Regions from separate parts of the Homo sapiens genome. Here all the other regions are linked to region 2. The links come from fine-mapping of genetic effects on gene expression. A gene starts in region 2. Each other region holds a variant in brackets. All regions are shown on one strand. Distances are from middle to middle. Region 1 overlaps ACAD9 (acyl-CoA dehydrogenase family member 9). Region 2 holds the start of RAB7A (RAB7A, member RAS oncogene family). Region 3 has its middle 28 kb from the start of MIR12124.

What was found. PIP is the estimated chance that this variant, and not a neighbour inherited with it, causes the effect.
Region 1: its variant is the best candidate, but not a certain one, in a credible set for the expression of RAB7A in spleen (GTEx, PIP 0.69).
Region 3: its variant is the best candidate, but not a certain one, in a credible set for the expression of RAB7A in whole blood (TOPMed, PIP 0.52).

What each region holds. Positions count from the first base shown.
Region 1 is chr3:128,883,010-128,891,192 of GRCh38, forward strand. It overlaps ACAD9 (acyl-CoA dehydrogenase family member 9), which reads left to right. Exons shown (of 18, transcript NM_014049.5): 2 at 1,644-1,737. Among named protein-coding and RNA genes, the nearest start is that of ACAD9, 7.5 kb to the left of the region's middle. The variant A/G (reference allele first, on the strand shown) is at 3,294.
Region 2 is chr3:128,721,537-128,729,719 of GRCh38, forward strand. It overlaps RAB7A (RAB7A, member RAS oncogene family), which reads left to right and starts at 4,647. Exons shown (of 6, transcript NM_004637.6): 1 at 4,647-4,823. RefSeq lists enhancers at 4,371-4,500, 4,530-5,514 and a silencer at 4,781-5,070.
Region 3 is chr3:128,814,937-128,823,091 of GRCh38, forward strand. No RefSeq gene overlaps it. Among named protein-coding and RNA genes, the nearest start is that of MIR12124, 28 kb to the right of the region's middle. The variant A/G (reference allele first, on the strand shown) is at 4,356.

The DNA.
Region 1 (8,183 bases), 160 kb after region 2:
GTGTTCAGTGAAGGAGACTGAGCTTTGATATAAAAGGCTGCAGAGTGATGGAGCCATCAGCTTGTTTTTTTTTTTTTTTCTTGTTTTTTTTTTCCTTGAGACAGTGTCTTACTCTGTTGCCCACCCTGGAGTGCAGTGGTGCAATCACAGCTCACTGCAGCCTCAACCTCCCCAGGCTCAGGGGATCCTCCCACCTCAGCCTCCTGAGTAGCTGGAACTACAGGCGTGTGCAACCACGCCCAGGCTGGTTTTGAACTCCTGGGCTTTAAGCAATCCCCCTGCGTCAGCTTCCCAAAGGACTAGGATTACAGGCAGTAGCCACTGCAACCAGCTAAGCTTGTTTTTTTCTTTTTCTTTTCTTTTTTTTTTATGGAGTCTCACTCTGTCACCTAGGCTGGAGTGCAATGGCGCAATCTCGGCTCACTGCAACCTCCACCTCCCGGGTTCAAGCAATTCTCCTGCCTCAGCCTCCTGAGTAGCTGGGATTACAGGCGCGTGCTACCAAGCCCGTGTAATTTTTGTATTTTTAGTAGAAACGGGGTTTCACCATGTTGGTCAGGCTGGTCTCAAACTCCTGACCTCGTGATCCGCCCGCCTCGGCCTCCCAAAGTGCTGGGATTACAGGCGTGAGCCACCGTGCCTGGCCTCCAACCTTTTTTTTTTTCTATACCACCTTCAGGGTGGTTTTGGAATGGATGGAGGCAGGGATTCCTTTAAGTTGGCTGTCACTTTTAGTTAGGGACTCACCTATAAGCCTGTGGTCCTGGGCCCAGAGAGGAGAAAGCAGTGCGAGCATATTGATAGAGTAGAGAAATCTGTTGGCTGATTAGCTGTACAAGGTCTGAGGAGAAGGTTGAGGTCTCCCCAAGACTTCTCTAGAACACTTGGTGAGAGGCGCCATGAGGACAGGTGATGCTTGGGCTTATAGCTCTGACTCAGGACATCACTGCTCAACAGCCTGAAGCCCACATCCAAAGCTCATGTCATGCTGGCAATTGAAGGGGTAGCAGAGCCCAAAAGTCCAGAGGGGCTCAGCACAGGGAGCAGATGTCTGTGAGCAGGAGAGACAGCGGCTGTAGGGATCGATGAGACTTGGTAAGCATGATGTGCTCTTGTCAGCATAGCATCTTTGAGCTCACACAATAATTGATGTAGAATTGTCCATTTCAGTAAGGAGTTTCCACATCCACTATCTTCCACGATTCTCACAAGGGCCTTGAGTAAATATTACCTGCATGTTATGGGTGAGAAAGGGGTAGTTTAGAGAGCTGAAGGGATTTGGTGAAGGCCACATAATGAGTAAGCCTGAAATCAAGGACCAGACCCCCAGGCTTCTAAATGTTAGTCTTGGGCTCCTTGTTTCATGGGACTATTATCATCCCTTGTACTGAGAAGGAAAACTGATGAAAATCGGGAAGAACCTATTTGAACAGGGGAGGGAGATGGATGTGGGTGGTGGAGCCTGCACATAGTTTCTGTATCTCAGGAACCTTGTGAGGTTTGCTTTCCAGTTCCTTCAGTACGTCATGTCCCGCTGGCCAGGGTGGAGTGGAGCACATGTTTTTCCTTCCCTTTTAACTGATATTTCCGTGATGGGAGTGTGCTAAAAATTAAATTTTTTAGAAAATATTTACTATTTTTAGAAAGAAGTTTTCCCATTTCCAGAAGTTAGCCAAGATGAACTTAATGAAATCAATCAGTTCTTGGGACCCGTGGAAAAATTCTTCACTGAAGAGGGTATGTATGGTTTTCTTTACCATTGCCGATTTCCATTGTAAGGGCTATTTGGTTGATATTTATATTAGAAGTGACATACATAGGAGAAGTCTTCTTGAGGGAGAAATGGTTTCCACTCATAATATTTTGCTTTAGGTTTCATCCCTATTGCCATTTAATTAAAAAACATCCAGTTAAATGCTTCTCATTGTATTTGTGGTTCAGGAGCACTTTAAACATTTCCATACTGTTCCAGGTCAACACTTCCATAAAGCTATAATAAAAATGAATAACTAAAAAAATTAGATGGCAAAAAGCCAAGGCCACACACCATACAAGCCCATGGAGCATGTGTTGGTTGTTGTGGCAGTGTACAGTTGCTCTTAGTGTTTCTAAAGGTTGAGTTTCAATTTCTGTACTTTGGTAATTGTAAACAAAGAGTGATTTGTGGACCAGCCACAGTTTGGCACCTGCATGGTGAGGCAGCATTTGACCTCAGGTCCCTCTCTCAGAGCTGTTGGCCGGTCCTCCAGCCAGGGCCTTGGTGGAGAGTTCAGTGATGGTGGATGGACAGCAGGTCTTCCCTAATAGTAGGATCCTGGAGAGCTTTTGTTTATATGAATTTTATCTATCAATATTTGCCATCTTAGGGGTTATTTTATTTTTATTTTACTTTATTTTTTTGAGAAAGGGCCTAGCTCTGTTGCTCAGACTGGAGTGTGGTGGTACCATCTCATCTCACCACCACCTCCATCTTTCAGGCTCAAACAGTCCCCCAACTTCAGCCTCCTGAGTTGCTGGAACTACAGGTGCGCACCCCCATGCCCAGCTAATTTTTTTGTATTTTTCATAGAGACAGGTTCTCACTATATTGCCCAGGCTGGTCTCTACTCCTAGGCTCAAGTGATCCTCCCACCTTGGCCTCCCAAAGGGCTGGGATTACAGGTGTGAGCCACCATGCCTAGCCCCTCTTAGAAATTAAAACTGAGAAATTTAAAATATACTGTGGGGCTGGGTGCAGTGGCTCACGCCTGTAATCCCAGCACTTTGGGAGGCCAACGGGGACAGATCACCTGAGGTCTGGAGTTCAAGACCAGCGTAGCCAACATGGTGAAACCCTGTCTCTACTAAAAATACAAAAATTGGCCGGGCATGGTGGCGGGTGCCTGTAATCCCGGCTATTCAGGAGGCTGAAGCAGGCGAATTGCTTGAACCCAGGAGGCAGAGATTGTAGTGAGCCAACATTGCACCACTGCACTCCAGCCTGGGTGACAGAGTGTGACTTTGTCTAAAAAAAAAAAATAAAATATACTGTGTTCATTTGTTTAAAAATAATAAATCCATTACATGTTAACATAATATTTTTAATGAAAAATATTTTGTTTTTGTTTTTCCGAGACAGAGTCTCACTCTGTCACCCAGGCTGGAGTGCAGTGGTGCAATCTCGACTCACTGCAACCTCTACCTCCCAGGTTCAAGTGATTCTCCTGCCTCAGCCTCCCAAGTATCTGGGACTGCAGGCATGCACCACCACGCCCGGGTAATTTTTGTATTTTTAGTAGAGATGGGGTTTCACT[A/G]TGTTGGCCAGGTTGGTCTTGAACTCCTGACCTCATGATCTGCCTTCCTCAGCCTCCCCAAGTGCTGGGATTACAGGCGTGAGCCACCGCGCCAGCTAATGAAAAATATTTTGAAAAATAATCAGGCCAGGCGCGGTGGCTCACACCTGTAATCCCAGCACTTACGGAGACTGAGGTGGGTGGATCACCTGAGGTCGGGAGTTCGATACCAGCCTGACCAACATGGAGAAACCTCATCTCTACTAAAAATACAAAATTAGCTGGGCGTGGTGGTACATGCCTGTAATCCCAGCTACTCAGGAGGCTGAGGCAGGAGAATCGCTGGAACCTGGGAGGCGGAGGTTGCGGTGAGCCGAGATCGCGCCACTGCACTCCAGCATGGGCAATAAGAGTGAAACTCTGTCTCAAAAAGAAAAAAAAAAGAAAAGTAAGTTAAAAAAAAAAAAAGAAAAAAATTGATGGAAAGAGTGACATTGGTTGAAAGTTATGCAAGTCCTTTTAATGTTTGGCTTATTAGAAGACAGCTGGATTCTCATACCTGTTTGTGCACGTAACCTCTGGAAAAGTCCACTGTGCAGTCTTTTTTTTTTTTTAACTGTCTTTTTTTATAATCTTCAGACATGCTTTTTGTTTGTTTGTTTCTGAGACAGTCTTGCTCTTGCTTTGTCACCCAGGCTGGAGTGCAGTGGTACGACCTCAGCTCACTGCAACCTCTGCAGTTGAAGTGATTCTCATGCCTCAGCTTCCTGAGTAGCTGGAATTATAGCACGCACCGCCACGCCTGGCTAATTTTTGTATTTTCAGTAGAGATGGGGTTTCACCATGTTGGCCAGGCTGGTCTTGAACTCCTGACCTCAAATGATCTGCCTGTAATCCAAAGTGCTGGGATTACAGGTGTCAGCCACCGCACCTGTCCTGACACGTGCATTTAAAGCAAGAAACACACACTTCCAGGACATAGGGCTCTGTCAGCAATAACTGTCATCTTTGTATTTGCAGAGATGTAAATATATAAGAAACCGGCTGGGCACGGTGGCTCACACTGGTAATCTTAGCACTGTGGAAGACTGAGGGGGGCAGATTGCTTGAGTCCCAGAGTTTGAGACCAGCCTAGGCAATGGAGCGAAACCCTGTCTCTACTAAAAATTTAAAATATTAGCCGGGCATGGTGGTGCGCGCCCATAGTCCCAGCTACTTGGGAGTCTGAGGTGGGAGAAGGTACCCAAGCCTGGGAAGTCAAGGCTGTAGTCAGCTGTGTTCATGCCATTGAGCTCCAGCCTGGGCGACAGGAGTGAGACCCTGTCTCAAAAAAAAATAAAAATAAAAATAAAAAAATAAATAAATATATATATATATATATATATATGCAAGAAACCACTGCAAACCAAACCCACTCCCTCTCACAGGAACAAAGGTCTCTTGGAATAAATAGCAAATGCTGGAATAAAAACTATGTTCATTCAGCTGCCATGATGTGAATTCAAAAAGGAAGTTAAATCCAAGGGCAAAGCAGAGAAAAGAACATACAAAAATACACCTATTTCATGTACATTCAAAGAGGAGGCTAATCACTGTGGACAAAGGGCCCTCTGGAATGACAGCTGTAGGCAGCCAGCAGTGCCACGGAAATAGAGGCACTGTCATCTGGAGACACAGAAAAATCACATCCTCCCACAACTGGCCTCTATGAAAACCAACCAGGACAGACAACCCTTCCCCAAAAGTAATGGCCAAGAATAAAAGCACAAATATTGCTGGAAATCCAAGTAGCCTGTTTTACTGCTTTGAGTGACTTATATGCAAACCTAAGACTTTTTTCTGAATCCTTGATCAAGATTTATTCATATAAAGGCCGTACATAAATTCTGGGAACATGGTACTTTGGACTATATATTGGACTCTGAGCCAAAACGTTAAATACACTACACTGCGCCCCACTGTACAGTCTTCAGAGAATTAGAATTTAAAAGCAAGTAACATCTTAAGTAGTTTTAGGCCAGGTATGGTGGCTCATGCCTGCAATCCCAGCGCTTTGGGAGGCCGACGTGGGTGGATCACTTGAGGTCAGGAGTTTGAGACCAGCCTGGCCAACATAGTGAAACCCTGTCTCTACTAAAAATATAAAAATTAACCAGGTGTGTTGGTGCCCACCTGTAATCCCAGCTACTGGGGAGGCCGAGGCAGGAGAATCACTGGAACCCGGGAGGTGGAGGTTGTATTGAGCTGGGATGGCGCCACTGCACTTCAGCCTGGGTGACAGAGTGAGACTCCATCTCAAAAAAAAATAAAAACTAGTTTTGATCCTGTGGGACCCCCTAGAAGCAGCTCAGGTCCCCCAGAACCTCTTTGAGAAGTGCCAAATTGTCAGCTGTCATTACATTGCTTGGTTTTTGTTTGTTTCTTATTTCACACCTGGTGATCACAAATTATATGTTGCTAGTTTTAAAAGTTGCTTATTTATATATAAACATAATTTATAATTTAGAAATACTTATTTCTGCTTTTTTTCCTAGTGTTTATCTTCCTATTTGTATCTTTTTTTAGCTCCCATAGTCTCTTGTTCTTTTATTTAAACTTTTCCTATGTGGTTTGTCAGGTTTTTTTTTTTTTCAGGTTTAATTAAGGAATAATTGATTTACAATAAATTGCACACACTGTCATGTGACACATAATGACATTCAAGTCAATGACAGACCATATATACAGTGGTGATCCCATAAGATCATCATACCATATTTCTACTGTATCTTTTCTATGTTTAGCTGTGTTCATATACACAAATACTTACCATTGTGTTACAGTTGCCTACAGTGTTCAGCACAGTAATATGCTGTACAGCTTTTTTGTTTTGTTTTGTTTTCCTTAAAAAAAAAAAAACAAAAAATATTTAACAGTGAGATGGGGTTTCACTGTGTTGCCCAGGCTGGTTTCCAACTCCTGGGCTCAAGTGATCCTCCCGCCTCAGCCTTCCAAAGTGCTGGGATTATAGGCATGAGACACCACGCCCGGCCTACTGTACAGGTTTGCAGCCTAGGAGCAATAAGCCATACCATATAGCCTAGGTGTGTAGTAGGCTCTGCCACCTAGGTTGTGTAAGTCCATTCTGATGTTCATACAGGGAGAGAATCACCTGACGCATGACTGTATTTAGAGAGTACCCCTCAGGAGCCATCAGTGCAACAGAGGAAGTGAACGTACTCATTACCCGTCAAAGTTTCCTTGTGCCTCTTTTATTTCCCCCCTGTTTCCAGGCAACTGCTGATCTGTTTTCTCTCACTATAGATTAGTTCGTATTTTTTGGAATTATATTATGTGTGATTTTGTCTGGCTTCTTTCTGCATAATTTTGAATTTCATCCATGGTGCATGTATTGGTAGTGGCTTCCTTTTTAATGCTGAGTCATATTTCTTTCTATGGATATACCAAGATTTGTTTATCCATTCAAGTATTCATCAACATAGGGTATGTATCCAGATTTTAGCTATCACCAAAAAAGTTGCCATAAACATTCCTTTTTTCCTCTTTTTCTTTTTTTAAGAGACAGGGTCTTTCTTTGTTGCCTGGGCTGGAGTGCAGTGGTGTGATCATAGCTCACTGCAACCCTTGAACTTCTGGGCTCAAGCCATCCTCTGCCTCAGCCTCCCGCATAGCTAAGACTACAGGCACACGCTACCATGCCCAGCTAATAATTCTTAAAGTTTTTTGTAGAAATGGGTTCTCACTATGTTATTCAGGCTGGTCTCAGACTCCTGGGCTCAGGTGATCTTCCTACCTCAGCCTCTTAAAGTGTTGGGATTACAGGTATGAACCACTGCGCCTGGCCTGTATTTCCTTTTTTTTTGAGATGCCATCTCGACTCACTGCAACCTCCATCTCCCAGGTTCAAGCGATTCTGCCTCAGCCTCCCGAGTAGCTGAGATTATAGGTGCGTGCCACCACATCTGGCTAATTTTTGGTATTTTGAGTAGAGAAGGGGCTTCACCATGTTGGCCAGGCCAATCTCGAACTCCTGACCTCAGGTGATCTGCCCGACTCGGCCTCCCATAGTGCTCGGATTACAGGTGAGAGCCACCTCGCCCAGCCTGGCCTGTATTTTATTTTAGAAACTTTATAGTTTTGGCTGGGCGCAGTGGCTCATGCCTGTAATCCCAGCACTTTGGGCGGCCGAGATGGGCGGATCATGAGGTCAGGAGATCGACACCATCCTGGCTAACATGGTGAAACCCCGTCTCTACTAAAAATACAAAAAATTAGCCGGGCGTGGTGGCAGGTGCCTGTAGTCCCAGCTACTCGGGAGGCTGAGGCAGGAGAATGGCGTGAACCCGGGAGGCGGAGCTTGCAGTGAGCCAAGATCGCACCACTGCACTCCAGCCTGGGCGACAGAACAAGACTCCATCTCAAAAGAAACTGTATAGTTTTAATTCAGGTTTAGAACTATGATTCATTACAAGTTAATTTGCATTTCTTTATCAATTTTACAATTTTCAATGTCTGCAAAAAGGCCTACAATTCTTAAATGGTTGGTTTATCTTTTAGAGCAATTTTTTTTTTTTTTTTGAGACGAAGTCTCACTGTGTCACCCAGGCTGAAGTGCAGTGGCGCTATCTTGGCCCACTACAACCTCTGCCTCCCAGGTTCAAGCGATTCTCCTGCCTCAGCCTCCTGAGTAGCTGGGACTATAGGTGCGCATCACTATGCCCGGCTAATTTTTATATTTTTTTAGTAGAGACAGGGTTTCACTATATTGGCCAGGCTGGTCTCGAACTCCTGACCTTGTGATCCACCCGCCTCGGCCTAAAGTGCTGGGATTATAGGCTTGAGCCACCGTGCCCGGCCAGCAATTTTTAAAATAGGAAAAAAGGATCTTGTAGTTACCCATGTAGTTACTGA
Region 2 (8,183 bases):
ATTTCATTGTCAAGATGTACCATACCTTTTTTACCAGTTCCCTATTGATAGAAATTTGAATGAAAATTGTGCAGGGACGTGTGTGTGTGTGTACGTTTGTACATTGTGTACCACACTAAGTAGTAAGGCTCTTGATATCAATGGCCTTGTTTTCCTTGTGTCCTTAGAACCTAACAAAAAGCCTAGCATATAGGAGATTCTCAGTAAATCGTTTGTTGAAAGAAGGATGTACTTGTCCACTTTCTCCATGGGCAATCCTGTTAACACCCGTTACTTTCATTTCCATCTACTCTTAAATTTCTATTTTCAGCTGAGGCTACCCTGAAGGACCCAGAAACCCAACTCCCATCTCTGCCTCAGCCCAAAATGTCTAACTGCCTCCTCCCCATCTCCACTTGGATGTTTCACGGAAGTCCTCTGTCTCAGCATTTCCAGAACTGAACTTCTCACTCCTAATCTCCTCCAACATACCTGCTGTGCTTTGGATATGATGTGTTCGTGCCCCCAAAATCTTATATTGAAATGTGATCCCAGGCCAGGTGCAATGGCTCACACCTGTAATCCCAGCACTTTAGGAGGCTGAGGAGAGCAGATTACTTGAACTCAGGAGTTTGAGCCCAGCCTGTCCAACACGGCGAACCCCGTCTCTACTAAAAATTCAAAAATTAGCTGGGCATGGTGGCAGGTGCCTGTAATCCCAGTCACTCGGGAGGCTGAGGCACAATAATCACTTGAACCTCATAGATGGAGGTTGCAGTGAGCCAAGATTGCTCCACTGCACTCCAGCCTGGGCAACAAAGCGAGACTCTGCCCCCTCCAAAAAAAAAAAAAGAAATGTGATCCAGGCAGGCTGAGAGTGGTGGCTCTCACGCCTGTAATCCCAGCACTTTGGGAGGCTGAGGGGGGCAGATCACTTGAGGCCAGAAGTTCAATATGGGCCTGGCCAACTTGGTGAAACTCCATCTCTACTAAAAATACAAAAATTATTTGGGCATGGTGGTGCACGCCTGTACTTCCAGCTGCTCGGGTGGCTGAGGCACGAGAATTGCTTGAACCCAGTGGGTGGAGGCTGCAATGAGCTGATAGCACCTCTGCACTCCAGCCTAGGCGACAGAGCAAAACTCTGTCTCAAAAAAAAAAAAAAAAAAAAGAAATGTGATTCCTCAGTGTGGAGATTTGGGAGGTGGGGCCTAGTTGGGGGTATTTGAGTTGTGGGGGGGTTCCCTCATGAATAGTTTGGTGCCATTCTAGGTAGTGAGTGAGTGAGTGAGTTCTGGCTCTGGTGAGGCTGGATGAGTTCTCACAGGAATTGATTAGTTCCCAAGAGAGTAGGTTGTGCTAAAGCCAAGATGTCCCTTGGATTTGGGCTGGGATTTCAGGCACGTGCCACAGCGCCCGGCTAATTTTTGTATTTTTAGTAGAGACGGGGTTTCACCATGTTGGTCAGGCTGGTAAAGACCAAAACACTTCTAATATTAAATATTAAAGTAAATGTGAACTATATATATATTTAAGACAGATTAATGAAAATGAGCAAGATAATTATTTATCCAATTATTCCATCTCAGGGTCACAGGTGGCCAGTCTATCCTGGCAGCTCAGGACAGGAACCAACCCTGCACAGGATGCCAGCCCATTGTGTACACGTGTGCGCACGTGCACACACACACACACACACACACACAGAGACTGGGACAATTCAGACAAGCCAATTCACCTAAAGGGCACATCTTTGGGATGTGGGAGGAAACCAGAGGAACCAAGGAAAACTCAGACATGGGGAAAGAGTGTAAACTACACAGACAGGGGCCCCAGCCAGGAATCAATTTTTTCTCATCAATGTTATAATTGAAATGATGTTACTGGAGGCCCTGCTCTACTTAACTCCCCCAAGAACCCTAAAAGTCTCAATCCCAATACATCACTGGCTCATAATGGATCTTGCCATGTAAATTGGGTCCAGATGTGGATGAGGTTCCTCAGATATAATTCCTTAAGAACGGCTCTGAGCACTGTTCCTCTGAAGGCCTGTGAGCTAGAGATGTTATCTGCTGTCCACGGACCCAGCATACAGAGTTGGCAAGAAGAAGATAAGCATAGTAGACACTTTTGTTCAAAAGGGGAAAAAACAGGAGCGACAGCTGCCACTGGGTCATAGTAATTCTGAAATCAGCGAGGCACGTGATGCCAGTTCCTTGATTCGAGTCCCCTCCTGCTCCTTGGGAATGATTATCTGCAGCTCCTGGCTCTATCCTCTTGGCTCATGGGTTTCTTCTAAGTTGTCCTTTCTTTCCCATAGGAAATAGTCCATGTTTGCATCTGAATAGCCTTCTCAGAAGGCTTCTTAGAAGGCTGGGGCCCACATGTCCCATTTTATTTTTGTGCTCTGCCTTTTCTGGTATAATTGTCCCTTGCTATTTGTGGTGGATTGGTTCTAGGACTCAGATGCTCAAATCCTGCAGTCAGCCCTGCCAAACCTGGGGATGAGGACTACTGCATTCCCAGTTGCTACTTTACCTTCAAACCTAGCATTTTGATTGGCTGCCTAACGGGGTGGAATTATCATAACTCTTGGCCTTTGAAACTATTTTCAGTTTTCATTCCCCTGAATACTCTGCAAATTGTACACATTGAGCACCTACTGTACCCCAACACTGTTTCAAGAATCAGGGATATCGCAGTGAATGAGACAGACAAAAATAGCTGCCTTGTGGAGCTGCCATTCTAGTGGGGAAGACAGACAATATGCAAATAAGTGAGTAGTATAAGAGGAAAAACTTTGGGAGGCTGAGTCGGGAGGATTACTTGACACCATTACTTGACACCAGGAGTTCAAGACTGCCTGGGTAACATAGTGAAAACTTCTCTTTACAAAAAAAAAAAAAAAATTAGCCAGCCATAGTGGTGCACGCCTGTGGTCTCAGCTACTCAGGAGGCTGAGACAGGAGGATCACTTGAGCCCAGAAGTTCAAGGCTGCAGTAAGCCCTGATTATGCCACTGCACTCCAGCATGGGCAACAGAGCAAGAACTTTTCTCAAAAAAAAAAAAAAGAAAAAGAAAATAAAAAAGAAAAAACAGAGGAGAAAAGCAGTAGGGAGATGTCAATTTTTGTGTTTGTATTGTGGTGACAGGGAGAGGGACTTCAGTTTTAAATAGGGAAGGCTATTTCACTGAAAAGGTTACTTTAAAGTCAAGACCAGAGGAAAGTGAGGGAGTGGCCAAGCAGATACCTGGAGGAAGAGCTTTCCAGGTAGAGAGAAGTACAACTGCAGAGGTCTGATGTAGATGTGTGCCTTCTCTTTTCTTTTTTGTTTATCTTTTGGAAGAGACAGTCTTGTTATGTTGCCCAAGCTGGTCTTGAACTCCTGGGCACATGCAAAGTGAAAGCAGAGAAAGAGTGGACTTACCCCAGAGGCGGATGGTTCTGCAGTGTGCAAGGCCATTTCAGAATACACATAGAGAAAACAGGAGAATAGGTGGTGAGGGTTTTGGGGAAAGAGCCAATTTTGGTTGAAAAAGTAGGGGAAACCCCAGACATTGTACCATCTCAGGGTTGAGACTGCTTGCCTAGCTTTTGAGATTTTTTTTTTCCCCAGACCCCTCAACTCCTGAGATCTTATCGGGAAGCTGCTGATCACCAGTTTTAGGTGTTTTTATCTATTGGGAGACTGCCTTTCTCTGGTCTGGCTGCAACCAATTATTATTTTAGAGAGACAGCTTAACCTGACAACCACGTCATGGTTGCCTCACATTGCTGGTCGGGGAGTGGCCCCTCTCCTGCCCTGCTCAGGTCTGACTACTTACTGTAACAATTGCAAGGTTTTTGGATGGAACAATTGAAAGAATGGAGCTTGCATGAACCAAAATAAGAAAAGACTATGAGAGGGCATTGTTGAAGATGGAGGCAAAAATTCTGAGTGGATCCTGATGTGTTCGGATGGGGCTGGTGCTTGGGAGGCTGCTCTGTGCTTACAAGAAGAGTTCTACCCGGTCCATCTTTATCACATCTTCTCTAATACTAAGTTCAGAGAGGCTTTAGCTCATTTTCCATTTTCTTGGGCTGTCTCCTCTGCCAGACAAAGTGCCTATTTCTCCTGTCTCTATCACCGAGCCACACAATTGCTGTAGTCATTTGCAGTCTACTAGAACGATAACACATATTGGCATCAGACAGATCTTGGTTCAAAACCTCGCTCCACCAGTTTCTGTGTTGAGCTAGACCAAGTGACATGATATACTGAGTCTCAGTTCCTTATTTGTAAAATGGTGATAATAATTTTTGGTTAAGTAATTAAAGTAAGGATAAATGATGCCTTTCGAAGAAGGACACAACTGGAATGGCCAGTTTACCCCTTGTCCCCTCTTCGGTGGCATTATTTATTCTGGAGTAAGGAGGGATGGCTGAGGGAATCTGTCTGTGGGTCCAACATGGCGCCGTCCTGCTCCTTGTATGAGCCTCAAAGATGGGGACAACCATTTGGGGGCAGACATGTTTGTAGCACGAGATCCAGGCTCAGTCCCGAGGCAGCCGGAACGTGACGCAAGGTTGAGGCGGGGCTCCTCCCCCGCACCCTGGCGTCGAGCGTCTCGTGACAGGTACTTCCGCTCGGGGCGGCGGCGGTGGCGGAAGTGGGAGCGGGCCTGGAGTCTTGGCCATAAAGCCTGAGGCGGCGGCAGCGGCGGAGTTGGCGGCTTGGAGAGCTCGGGAGAGTTCCCTGGAACCAGAACTTGGACCTTCTCGCTTCTGTCCTCCGTTTAGTCTCCTCCTCGGCGGGAGCCCTCGCGACGCGCCCGGCCCGGAGCCCCCAGCGCAGCGGCCGCGGTAAGCAGCGGGCCCAGCCCGGCCGGCGGCCTGGCCCCATCCCCCCCCTCAGCCCCTCGGTCGCCAGGGCCTCGCGTCCTCCCTGTCCTCCTGGGCAGGCTCCAGTCCCAGCCCTGGCCACGCGGGCACACCCGGCATCGCTCAGGCCCCCGGAGCAGGCCAAGACCCCACCCGGCTTGGAGAGGTCGGAGGTCGTCGGGCGTGACCTCTGGCCGGGTTGCCCGCCCCGGCCACCCGTCTCGGACGCTCTGTTTACTGTTGGCCTGGATCTCAGAGACCCGAGAGGGTTCCTTGACTTGGGCGGCCCTGCGCCGCGGCAGGACGCGCTGGCCAGTGGAGTTCCTTAGCGCGGCGAGCAGGAGGGTGTCAGAGCCCACGCCGCCCGCCGCCGTGCCCACCCGGCGGGCATGGGTCACAGGCGCTGGGGGCCGAGCCGCGTTCCCATCCGGTTCTTCAGTTGAACAGCCTGACCCTGTTAGTGGGAGTTCCCTGACGGCAACTGAGTCAAGGCAGTGAGTCAGGTCACGTGCGCTGGGCTCGCCTCGACACTTGTGTACATTGAGGCGCCTCTGGCGCTGGGAGACAGGGAGCTTTTTGTCCTAGGCATGTTACGGTAAATCCTGAGAGAAGTTTTTCAACTTAATCGAGGAAAGATGGTAGTTGGATGTAGAGTTGTGTTTCCATTCCGACCGTGTTTGGGGCCTCTTTCTGCATTCATTTTAGGCTTGATACCTAATGGGGTCATAAGGGGAATATTGAGAATATTGACAGCAAATATTTGAGCGTTTATTGTATGCTAGGCAGCGTGGCAAGACCTTTTAACAGATCATTATGTTTAGTTCTTTGAACAACCCTCTGAAGTACCACTGTTGTGCCCACTTAACACAGTGGGAAGTTGAACAGAGAGGCTAAGCCATTTGGCCAAGGTCACACAGCTAATAAGTTACGAAGCAGAGATGCAAGCCCAGGCAGTCAGACTCCAGAGCACTGTATTAAATTTCTAGGTTGTACTGCTTTCACGTACCCCTGAAGCTTGCTGGTTTATCTTTTGCTACCTGGTATCTGTACCTCAGTGCCTCCCACCACCTCCTTTCTTTCTATTGATGTCATTTGAAAGTCTTTCTGGTAGCATCAGTTCTCCCTTAAAGCCATAAGAAATGCCGTTTGCGACTTATCACACATATTGTGGTGTAGTGTCACCGAATTAGGAGCTCTTGAATACCGGCAGGGTACTTAACTGAGGTTTGAAAAATTTTGCAGGTAGGCCTGGCAAACCTGCCTAGTGAACCTTTCTTACAACCTTAGTTGATGGCTGTCCAGCCGGCTGGTTCTTCCCTATTCAAAATACTGCATCTTTGGTTTCCTAAAGAACGGACTCTTGTCTCTTTCTTGTGACTTAAGCAGCTGATGAAGCACATGATTTCTCATCCATGGATGAATAAAGTCTCCTCTTAGTGTGTTTCTCTCTTCAAACTTGGGAAGGTTTGTTCAGATTTGAGTTTAAGGACTGGAAGGTGAGTTAGGAGTACTTCTTCTGAAGAAGGGACCGGCTAAGTTAAAGCTTAGCGTTCACAATCCTGTTGTATTCATATTTGTCTTTTTTTTTTTTAACTTTGCTACCTAGCCTAAAATATTTAAGTGAGTAATAAGTACTGTGGCTTTATATAATGTTTGAGTTTAGAGTAATGATAGGCACCTTTTTATTCATTCATTAAGTATTTTGAGTATCCATTGAGTATCAGCAATGTATCAGGCATTGTGGGACATTGACTCAGGGAGATAGGCGTGGTTCCTGTCCTCAAGGAATTTTTAAAAGGTGAATGATCTTGGCCAGAAATTCTGTTGTGGAATAATTTGGCGGTAGAACTTGAGGCTTTTTGGAAAGAGTTATTTCTCATCTCTGCTGGTGAATCAGTAGTAACCCAAAGGATGGTGTTCTTCTGGCTAACTTTAAGGCTTTGTTAATTTTAACAACAGCATTTGTATGGTTTGCTCTTCAGAGAGTGTAGAAGATAATATTACAGTTTCTAATTAATCACATCTTTTAAAGAGTAACCTTCAACACTCAACTTGTTTCTCCTTTTGCTCTAGTGGCATTTATTTTATTTTATTTATATTTTGAGACGGAGTTTCCCTCTTGTTGCCCAGGCTAGAGTGCAATAGCGCGATGTCGGCTCACTGCAACCTCTGCCTCCCGGGTTCAAGCCATTCTCCTGCCTCAGCCTCCCGAGTGGCTGGAATTACAGGCATGCGCCACCATGCCCAGCTAATCTTGTATTTTTAGTAGAGACAGGTTTTCTCCATGTTGGTCAGGCTGGTCTCGAACTGCCTACCTCAGGTGATCCGCCTGTCTCGGCCTCCGAAAAGTGCTGGGATTACAGGCATGAGCCACTGCGCCCGGCCGACTCTGGTAGCATTTTTTTGTTCACTCAAGAGGTAGTCCATGTCACTACTGTAATTACCTTGCACTGCCATGTCTTTGAGCAAAGGTACATTTGGCATGCTGGATTTTTTTCTTCAGCTGGCAAGAAAGTTTAATGTAGCACTGATAGTGTACTGGCCATAGTTTCAGTACCATTCTACATAGAAAAGCTGTGTTACCCTATCTCCCACAACTTTCTAGATTCCCTTCTTTAAGGGAAGATTTGGATTTTACATTTGTGGTAGAACTGCATAAGTAAACAGAGGGTGGAATGTAGAAGATAGTCTAAAAATAGTTTTATTAGTATATCCTTCTAGGTAGTTAGCAACCACTTGGGGCAATTTTTTTTAAAATTTTTTTTTAGTGCCAACTGTGTCTAAGCTCACCAACCCTGTAATCAGAGAACAACTCTTTATAGTAAAGTGTGGCTTTGAATCAGTTTTCTGACCCCACTGCCAAGTGAAGCCAAAAAATTTTGGTTATTTGATTAGCTTTTAATATGTCTTCAGCTGGGCACGGTGGCTCACGCCTGTAATCCCAGCACTTTGGGAGGCCGAGGCAGGTGGATCATGAGGTCAGGAGATCGAGACCATCCTGGCTAACACAGTGAAACCCCATCTCTACTAAAAATACAAAAAATTAGCCGGGCGTGGTGGCGGGCGCCTGTAGTCCCAGCTACTCGTGAGGCTGAGGCAGGAGAATGGCGTGAACCCAGGAGGCAGGGCTTGCAGTGAGCAGAGATCATGCCGCTGCACTCCAGCCTGGGCGACAGAGCGAGACTTCTTCTCAAAAAAAAAAAAAAAAAAAGTCTTCAAAGGGATCTTCACTAATAACGTTTTTGCTCTTACTTTGGCATTAGACTTTGTAAACAAAGATGTAGCAAACACAGACCACGCAAATATGACAGTTGTCTTATGCACATTCCTCTCTGGCATTTG
Region 3 (8,155 bases), 93 kb after region 2:
AAGGCCCTCTCATATCTGGTCCTGTAGTGCCTGTCCCTAGTTTTTTTTTGTTTGTTTTTTTTTCCGGGGGCGGGGGTGGGTGTATTTTAATCACATTGTTGGAGGTTGAGGACCATGGATGGAGAACGCATTGTCCCTTTAGGAGAGCAGCCAGAAACTGCTGGGGACTCTGAGCCATGCATATCCTGTAGGTGTAACTGTAACCTAGTCATGTGTTATGTGTTTTATTTTTAGTTGACCTAGTTGCTAACACTTAGATGTGTAATTCTGCATTTGTCACAGGAGAGGAAGATTTGGCAGCAGAGGCCCTGTATTCCAACATATGTAAGCCCCCACCTGGAATGGAATAGTTGCCACTTAGAAGCAATTTTATTAAAATAGTAGTAGTTCAGGTCGTGAGTCACTTTAGGTTTTGCAGAAGTGCCTCATTGAGTTAGATCTTGAATTCTACTTTGCTACACTTTTCTACATTTCCACTTCTCAGGCTCCTCAGCTGGTTTCTTTCCTCGTGGCTCCTCTTGGCATGTACTTTATGTGTTAAAAATAGCATAGTTTAGAAGTTCAGATGCTGCACAATGTGAGATTATCCACAGTGCAATTCCACCCTGGCTGGGTGGCTTAAATCTTCTCTGGTCCTATATTTTGCTTGGGCCTCATCAGGTGTTTGTCCTCTAGAGGAGCAGAGTTCTCTCCAGCTTGGGGCCCAGTGACTGGGCCACAGGGTGTGGACCCTTGTGTGATGCTCACCTCTGCAAATCAGGCATCTATTCCTCTGATTGTGTTCCACTGGTCTTGACCTTGTATGTGACATTAAAATGGACCTTGACTTCTGACCTGCTTGACCTTCATCCTAAAACTGATGATCATCCTGATATTAACCTGCTTTAGCTTGAGATGAATGTAATCTTTAATTGACTGATTTCAACCATTGTCCTTATCATAACTTACCCTAATTTTAATGGCTTTGGCTTTGAACTGGCTTTGACTTTACCCTAAACACGTTCACTGCTGAATGACCTTGACTCTGACCCACCTCCTGACCCTAATCATCACCTGACTTTGAAGTTAACATGGAACCCTACCATGACAATAGGTCTTACTCTCTGACCTGGGACTAATTAGTCTCATGTCCCATCAGCCTGATGGCTGAGCTTGGTGTCATATTTTAACCCTAAATTGTATAATGTTCATCTAAGGGATTCAGCTTAACCACAATAGGGAGCCATGGCTGAGACTGAGCTCTGCATCAACACAGTGCCTTTTTCTTTTTTTTATTTTTTTATTTTATTTTATTTATTTATTTATTTATTTTTGATCATTCTTGGGTGTTTCTCAGAGGGGGATTTGGCAGGGTCATAGGACAATAGTGGAGGGAAGGTCAGCAGATAAACAAGTGAACAAAGGTCTCTGGTTTTCCTAGGCAGAGGACCCTGCGGCCTTCCGCAGCATTTGTGTCCCTGGGTACTTGAGATTAGGGAGTGGTGATGACTCTTAATGCTCATTAAGAGTCATCACAGTGCCTTTTTCTATATTCCTATTTAGATTCAGCATAAGCATGTGTTTTCTCTCAAAAGAGGGGAACTTGTCATTTTGCTGGAATAAGCAGTAAGGATTTACTTTTGTGAAGAATATCTGGGACTGAGTTTGTCTGCAGTACTATGGATTGTTTGGGTTCATTCATATTTGCCTTGAGGTGAGAATGAGAGATGAGTGTGTTGCTGGGTTTGCATCCATCTCAGTTTGCGCTAACAAATATTCAGAAGTTATTTTTGGCGAGGCACACTGGCTCACACCTGTAATCCCAGCACTTTGGGAGGTCAAGGTGGGTGGATCACCTGAGGCCAGGAGTTTGAGACCAGCCTGGGCAACATGGCAAAACCCCATCTCTAATAAAAATACAAAATGTAGGCGGGCGTGGTTGTGGGCACCTGTAGCCTCAGCTACTTGGGAGGCTGAGGCAGGAGAATCGCTTGAACCTGGAAGACAGAGGTTGCAATGAGCCAAGATTGCGCCACTGCACTCCAGCCTGGGCAACAGAGTGAGACTCCATCTCACACACACACACACACACACACACACACACAAAAAGTTTTGGAAAGGACGTCTGGGAATGAGTTTGTTGTACTAGTATGTACTTGTTTCAGTAGTACTCCTTCCTCTGATCCCAGCTTATTCTGCCTGCATGTGAGTGTGTTGCTGTGCCGACTGTCATCTCCCTCAATAAGCTATGAGGAGTTGGTTTTAATAAGAATGCCTGAGTTTGTTGTACTAACAGGAATTCTCATCCAAACTCCTACTCAGGTTCATTCTGATTCCTCTCATCTTTTAGTAAGAATATGCCTTTGAGGTTAATGTGTATTGCATTGCTTACATTGATATCAGTTAACACTGACCTGCAATAAGATTTCACCTTAAGATAAATGTCTGAGACTAAGCTTTTTTGCACTGAAAATGATGCCTTCCAATAGCATGAAGTAGGTGCATCTTGGTTCACTCTACCTTGCAGTAAGAATGTGCCCTAGAGAGGAATGTGTGTGTCCTGCTTACCTTCCTCTCAGTTGTCACTCGCATGCAATTAGGAGTTGCATGAATCAAATGATTGAGACTGGATGTACTTGTACTAATATGGATTCTTTTCATTACCACATGAGACTCATTCTAATCGATTTACACTTAACAATCATCCTGACCGTGATCCCCTTGAGGTAACCTTGGATTAACTTTGAAACTGACCCATGTGTCCTGACCTTGACTTTTTTCTTTTTTTTGAGACGGAGGCTCAGGCTGGAGTGCAGTGGCGTGATCTTGGCTCACCGCAACCTCCGCCTCCCAGGTTCAAGCGATTCTCCTGCCTCAGCCTTCTGGGTAGCTGGGATTACAGGTGTGCACCACCACACCTAGCTAAATTTTGTATTTTTTAGTAGGCGGTTTCACCATGTGAGCTGGGCTGGTCTCAAACTCGCGACCTCAAATGATTCGCTCACTTTGGCCTTCCAAAGTGCTGGGATTACAGGCGTATTGATCCTGATCTTGAATCTCATATGCAGTCATCCTGACCTTAAGCTGAAATAAGCATGAACTTGACCTTGAATTTGAATCTAGCCCTAATTCTGACCCTTGTCCTCACCCTAACCATCACCCTGACCATGTTTTGCCCTCATTTTAAACTTGTCCTTGAAACTGACTTTGATTGATTTTGAATCCAGTACACTGGTGCTTTTCATGGCCCTGAATCTGAATCTGAAGCCAACCCTGAACATTGTCCTGGCCATAAGTTTATACCTCCCCTAAGTTTATACCTGAATCTAGCTGACCTTAACCATTCTTAAGTTATCCTTAACCTTATTCATCCTGCCACTGATGATAGTCTGCCTTTGAACTGCTCTGGCCTTAAAATGACCTTCATCCTCTTGGCTCTAATCCTTAGCCTTGGTATGACGTTGGACCCAACCCTTGTCCTGGTGCTGACCAGCATTCTGACCCTACGTTTCAACTTTACCTTGAGCTTGAGCCATTTGGACCTTGACATGACTTTGAGGCCGACTCTGATTATCACCTTGAACATCATTCTAGCCATGTCTTAGTTTGTGTTTTTTTTTTTACTTGACTTTGCACTTGACCTTGACCCTACCATGGATCCTCAGTTTGACATAATCATCCTGAACTTGCCCTACCTGACTCTGAAATTGCCTTACCTTCATCCTGCCATTGTACGGACAATGACCTTGAACTTTACTTGGATCCTGATCTTAACTATCCTTTGAACACAGACATCCATACTTTGACCCACCCCAACATTGAAATGATCTTACCCAAAAAATTGGCCTTGGCACTGACTCCGATTCTTATCTTCACTCTTATGTGCTTTGATTTTTTGATGATCATTGATCTGAATTGACCCTGGTACTGAACATGGCTGACCATTTTAGAGCCTTGGCTTGTGTCCCAAACCACCAGCACATCTCAGCGCCCACTTCCTTCTTTTCCATTGGCTCTTCTCATGGACGTGTCCTGTATTCATTTGCTAGGACTCTCATAACAAATACGAGGCTGCAGGGCTTCAACAGCAGAAATGTCTTTTCTCCTGGTTTTGGATGATAGAAGTCCGAGATCCAGGTGTCCACGGGGTTGTTTCCTCTCAACCCCTCTCCTCAGCTTGTGGATGCCTCTCTCCTGGTGTCTCCACATGGTCTTCCCTTCTTTGCCGTTCTGGGTTTGAATCTCCTTTCTATGGACACCAGTCAGATTCGATTAGGGCCCAACTATATGACCTTATTTTACTTTAGTTACCTCTTTAATGGTCCCGTCTCCAACTGCAGTCACTTGCTCTGAGGTACTGGGGTTTAGGCCTCAAC[A/G]TAGGAATTGGAGGGGGACACAGCTCAGCACATCACCTCCCCTATCACCTCCCTTATGTACATCTTAGCTCTCATAGCCGTCACTGTCTAATTTTTCTTCCCTTAAATCTGGCTTCATTCCAAATTTCCCCTCCCCTGACTCGTTTTAATCTTTAACAGTTTTGTGAGGTACAACCCACCCTTTGTAAAGAGGAGAAAACAACAGATCTAGAAAGCTGAGCACTTGCTGGGAGGTTCATTTTTCCTAAGAGTAGCTGTATGTTGGAATCACCTGAGGGCCTGTGTCCCACCTGATTTACTGAACTTGACAGTGCCGGAGTGTGGCTCAGGTATGCTTTTAAAACCCCTCCAGGTGATTCTAATGTGTAGCTGGCGTTGAACTGGTATAAAAATATTTCCCTAAATATTTTATGAACCACAAATGTGTAAGGTCCACAGCTGGTTGCTAAGAGACAGGAAAAAGTTTGGCCTTAAAAAAAATTAAAGATCTCGGCCGGGCGTGGTGGCTTACGCCTGTAATCCCAGCACTTTGGGAGGCCTAGGCGGGAGATCACGAGGTCAGGAGATCGAGACCATCCTGGCTAACACGGTGAAACCCCGTGTCTACTAAAAATACAAAAAATTAGCCAGGCATGGTGGCGGGCGCCAGTAGTCCCAGCTACTCGGGAGGCTGAGGCAGGAGAATGGTGTGAACCTGGAGGCGGAGCTTGCAGTGAGCAGACATAGTGCCACTCCAGCCTGGGCAACAGAGTGAGACTTCCATCTCAAAAAAAAAAAAAAAAAAAAAAAAGATCTCAAATGTATGCTCTAGCCTTCCCCACCACCACCGCCACTGAGTTGCAACACTGCACAGATTTTGTTTGACCCACTTTTCCTACATACTTCCAACCAATATTTGTAAATGGGAAGATAGCACACAAAATCCAACTCTAGTTTGTCTTTTAAAAATTGGAAGAAAGTGCAACACTTGGATCACACTCCCGAATTTCTCATAGTGACCACTAATTGAGGACCCACCTTATTTAAACTTGCTTGCCTGGCTCCCATGCTAAGAAACTAATTTATGTCTGAGGGTGGCCCGGCAGCTTCTGAGTGGAATGCGTGTGCTCCAAGAGACCAGGCTTTGGGGTGTGGTGTGCTGAGTGCTGCTGCTCTGCCAAGTGAGCTCGGCCCGGTCCACGGTGACTACCAAGTTTCCATGTCCTGAGTTTCCTGGCCAGGTAGAAGATACTGGAAGTCTGGAGGGGAACCCAAAACTGCCAGCATGGCACATCCTGTCCCAACCTCTTTCCTTTGAGGAAAGGAACCATGTGCCTTCACAATGCCCTTCCTCACAGTACCCCTTTCCTTTGCCAGAAGTCCTTCCTCCATTCACACTGCAGGGCTAAAGATACCCCTTTTTGCTCATTTTTGTTGTAGTTTCATGGAAGGGAGCCAGAACTGGAATTTTGTTAGCTTTTTGGGGTCTAATCATAGTCCGTGGGTGTATTATTACTCCCTACTTTATGCCAGGAAAGAGAAAGGGTAAAGGCTATATAGAAAATCCCTAGCTTAGAGAAGGAAAAGGCCACTCTGGATGGCCCATCGAACAGAGGTGGTGAATTCAGTAGTTGGGTTTCCATTGGTATCTGTTGCTTCTGCTTTCAGAAGCAAGCTTGGCTTGCAGTTTGTAAAAGTACCCTGGGTCCCTAGTCATCTCTGCACTCATAGGAATGCCTGCTGGGGTACTGTTGTGGAAGGACAGGGAAACTTCTTGCCAAATTTCATTCCTTGCCATAGAACAGGATCCTCCAACTCTAGACGTTAACTTAGGTTGTCTTGGAGAGATCATCAAGATTTTGTTAAGTCACTTGATTCTCTAGCTGCACTCCTGGGTAAAAGGAAACTACCCTCACATCTATGATCAGTTGATTTTTGACAAGGGTGCCAAGACCATTCAATGGGGAAAAGACAGTTTTTTCATCAAATTGTGCTGGGATATGGATACCCATACCCATCTGCAAAGAATGAAGTTGGAGTCTTAACCTTGCACCATATACACAAACTAACTTGAACTGGATCAAAGACCTAAGTGTCAGAGCTAAAACTGTAAAACTCTTTGAATAGGGGGAAAGCTTCATGACATTGGATTTGGCAGTGATTTATTTGATACGACTCTAAAAACACAGGCGACAAAAGAAAACAGATTGGACATCATGAAAATTAAAATTTTTTGTGCATCAAAGGACACTACAAAGAGAGTAAAAACTCACCATATATCTCATAAGGGATTAATATCCAGAATATAGAAAGAAGTCCTATAACTCAATTTTAAAAAGTGATTCAAAAATGAGTGAAGGACTTAAATATATATTTCTCCAAAGAAAATACAATGATCACTGTCAGTCCACCAGAAAATGCGAATCAAAACCACACTGAGCTACTTAACACACAAAACAGCAAGTGTTAGTGAAGATGTGGAGAAATCAGAACCCTCGTGTTTTACTGGTGGGAATGTAAAACAGTGCAGCCACTTTGGACAATAGCCTGGTGATTCCTCAAAAAGATAAACATGGAATTACCCTGGGATCAGCAACTCCCCTCTTGAGATGTGTACCCAAGAGAAATGAAAGCTGGGATTCAGAGATACTTGCACACCCATGTTCGTGGTAACATTATTTACATTAGCCAAAAAGTGGAAACAAGTGTTCATCAACAGAGGAATGGATAAACACAATGTGATATGTATGTAGAATGGAATATTATTCATAAGGAGTAAGGCCAGGCGTGGTGGCTCATGCCTGTAAGCCCAGCACTTTGGGAGGCTGAGGTGGGTGGATCACGAGGTTAAGAGATCGAGACCATCCTGGCCAACATGGTGAAACCCCGTCTCTACTAAAAATACAAAAATTAGCTGGGCGTGGTGGCACGCACCTGTAATCCCAGCTACTCCGGAGGCTGAGGCAGGAGAATCGCTTGAACCGGAGAGGGAGAGGTTGCAGTGAGCCGAGATCATGCCACTGCACTCCAGCCTCAGCAACAGAGCTAGACTCTGTCTCAAAAAAAAAGAGAGTAAGATTCTGAGTCATGCTGCAGTATAGATGAGACTTCAAAACATTATTCCAAGGCCGAGTGCAGCGGCTCACACCTGTAATCCCAGCATTTTGTGAGGCCAAGGTGGGAGGATAATTTGAGCCCGGGAGTTCAAGACTGGCCTAGGCAACTTAGTGTGACCCTATCTCTACAAAAAATAAAATTAGCCAGGTGTGGTGGCATGCGCCTGTAGTCCCAGCTACTTGGAGGCTGAGGCAGGAGGATTGCTTGAGCCTAGAGAGGCTGCAGTGAGCTGTGGTTGTGCTGCTGCACTCCAGCCTGGGCAACAGAGCGAGATCCTATCTCAAAAGAAAAAACATTATTCTAAGTGAAATAAGCCTGAAACAGAAGGACAAATATTGTTATCATTCCACTTTTAGGAAGTACCTAGAATAGGAAAATTCATAAGAGACAAAAAGTAGAACAGAGTGCGGGGAGGGGAATGGAGAATTACTCTTTAAAGGGTACACAATGTCTGTTGGGGATGATGGAAGTTTTGGAAGTAAACAGTGGTGATGTTTGCACAACATTGTGAATGTATTTAATGATGCTGGAATTGACACAAGATGGTAAATTTTATGCAAGTTTTATACTTTTTTAATTGAAAAAAAGGAAACTGCTGAGTGAAAAAAAGTCAAAGATCAATGAGTGCCTAAAGCCCATGAACTTGAAAATGAGGCTTCGCCTCACAAAAACGCCAGCTGCCTCTGCATCTGCCCCCTTCCCAT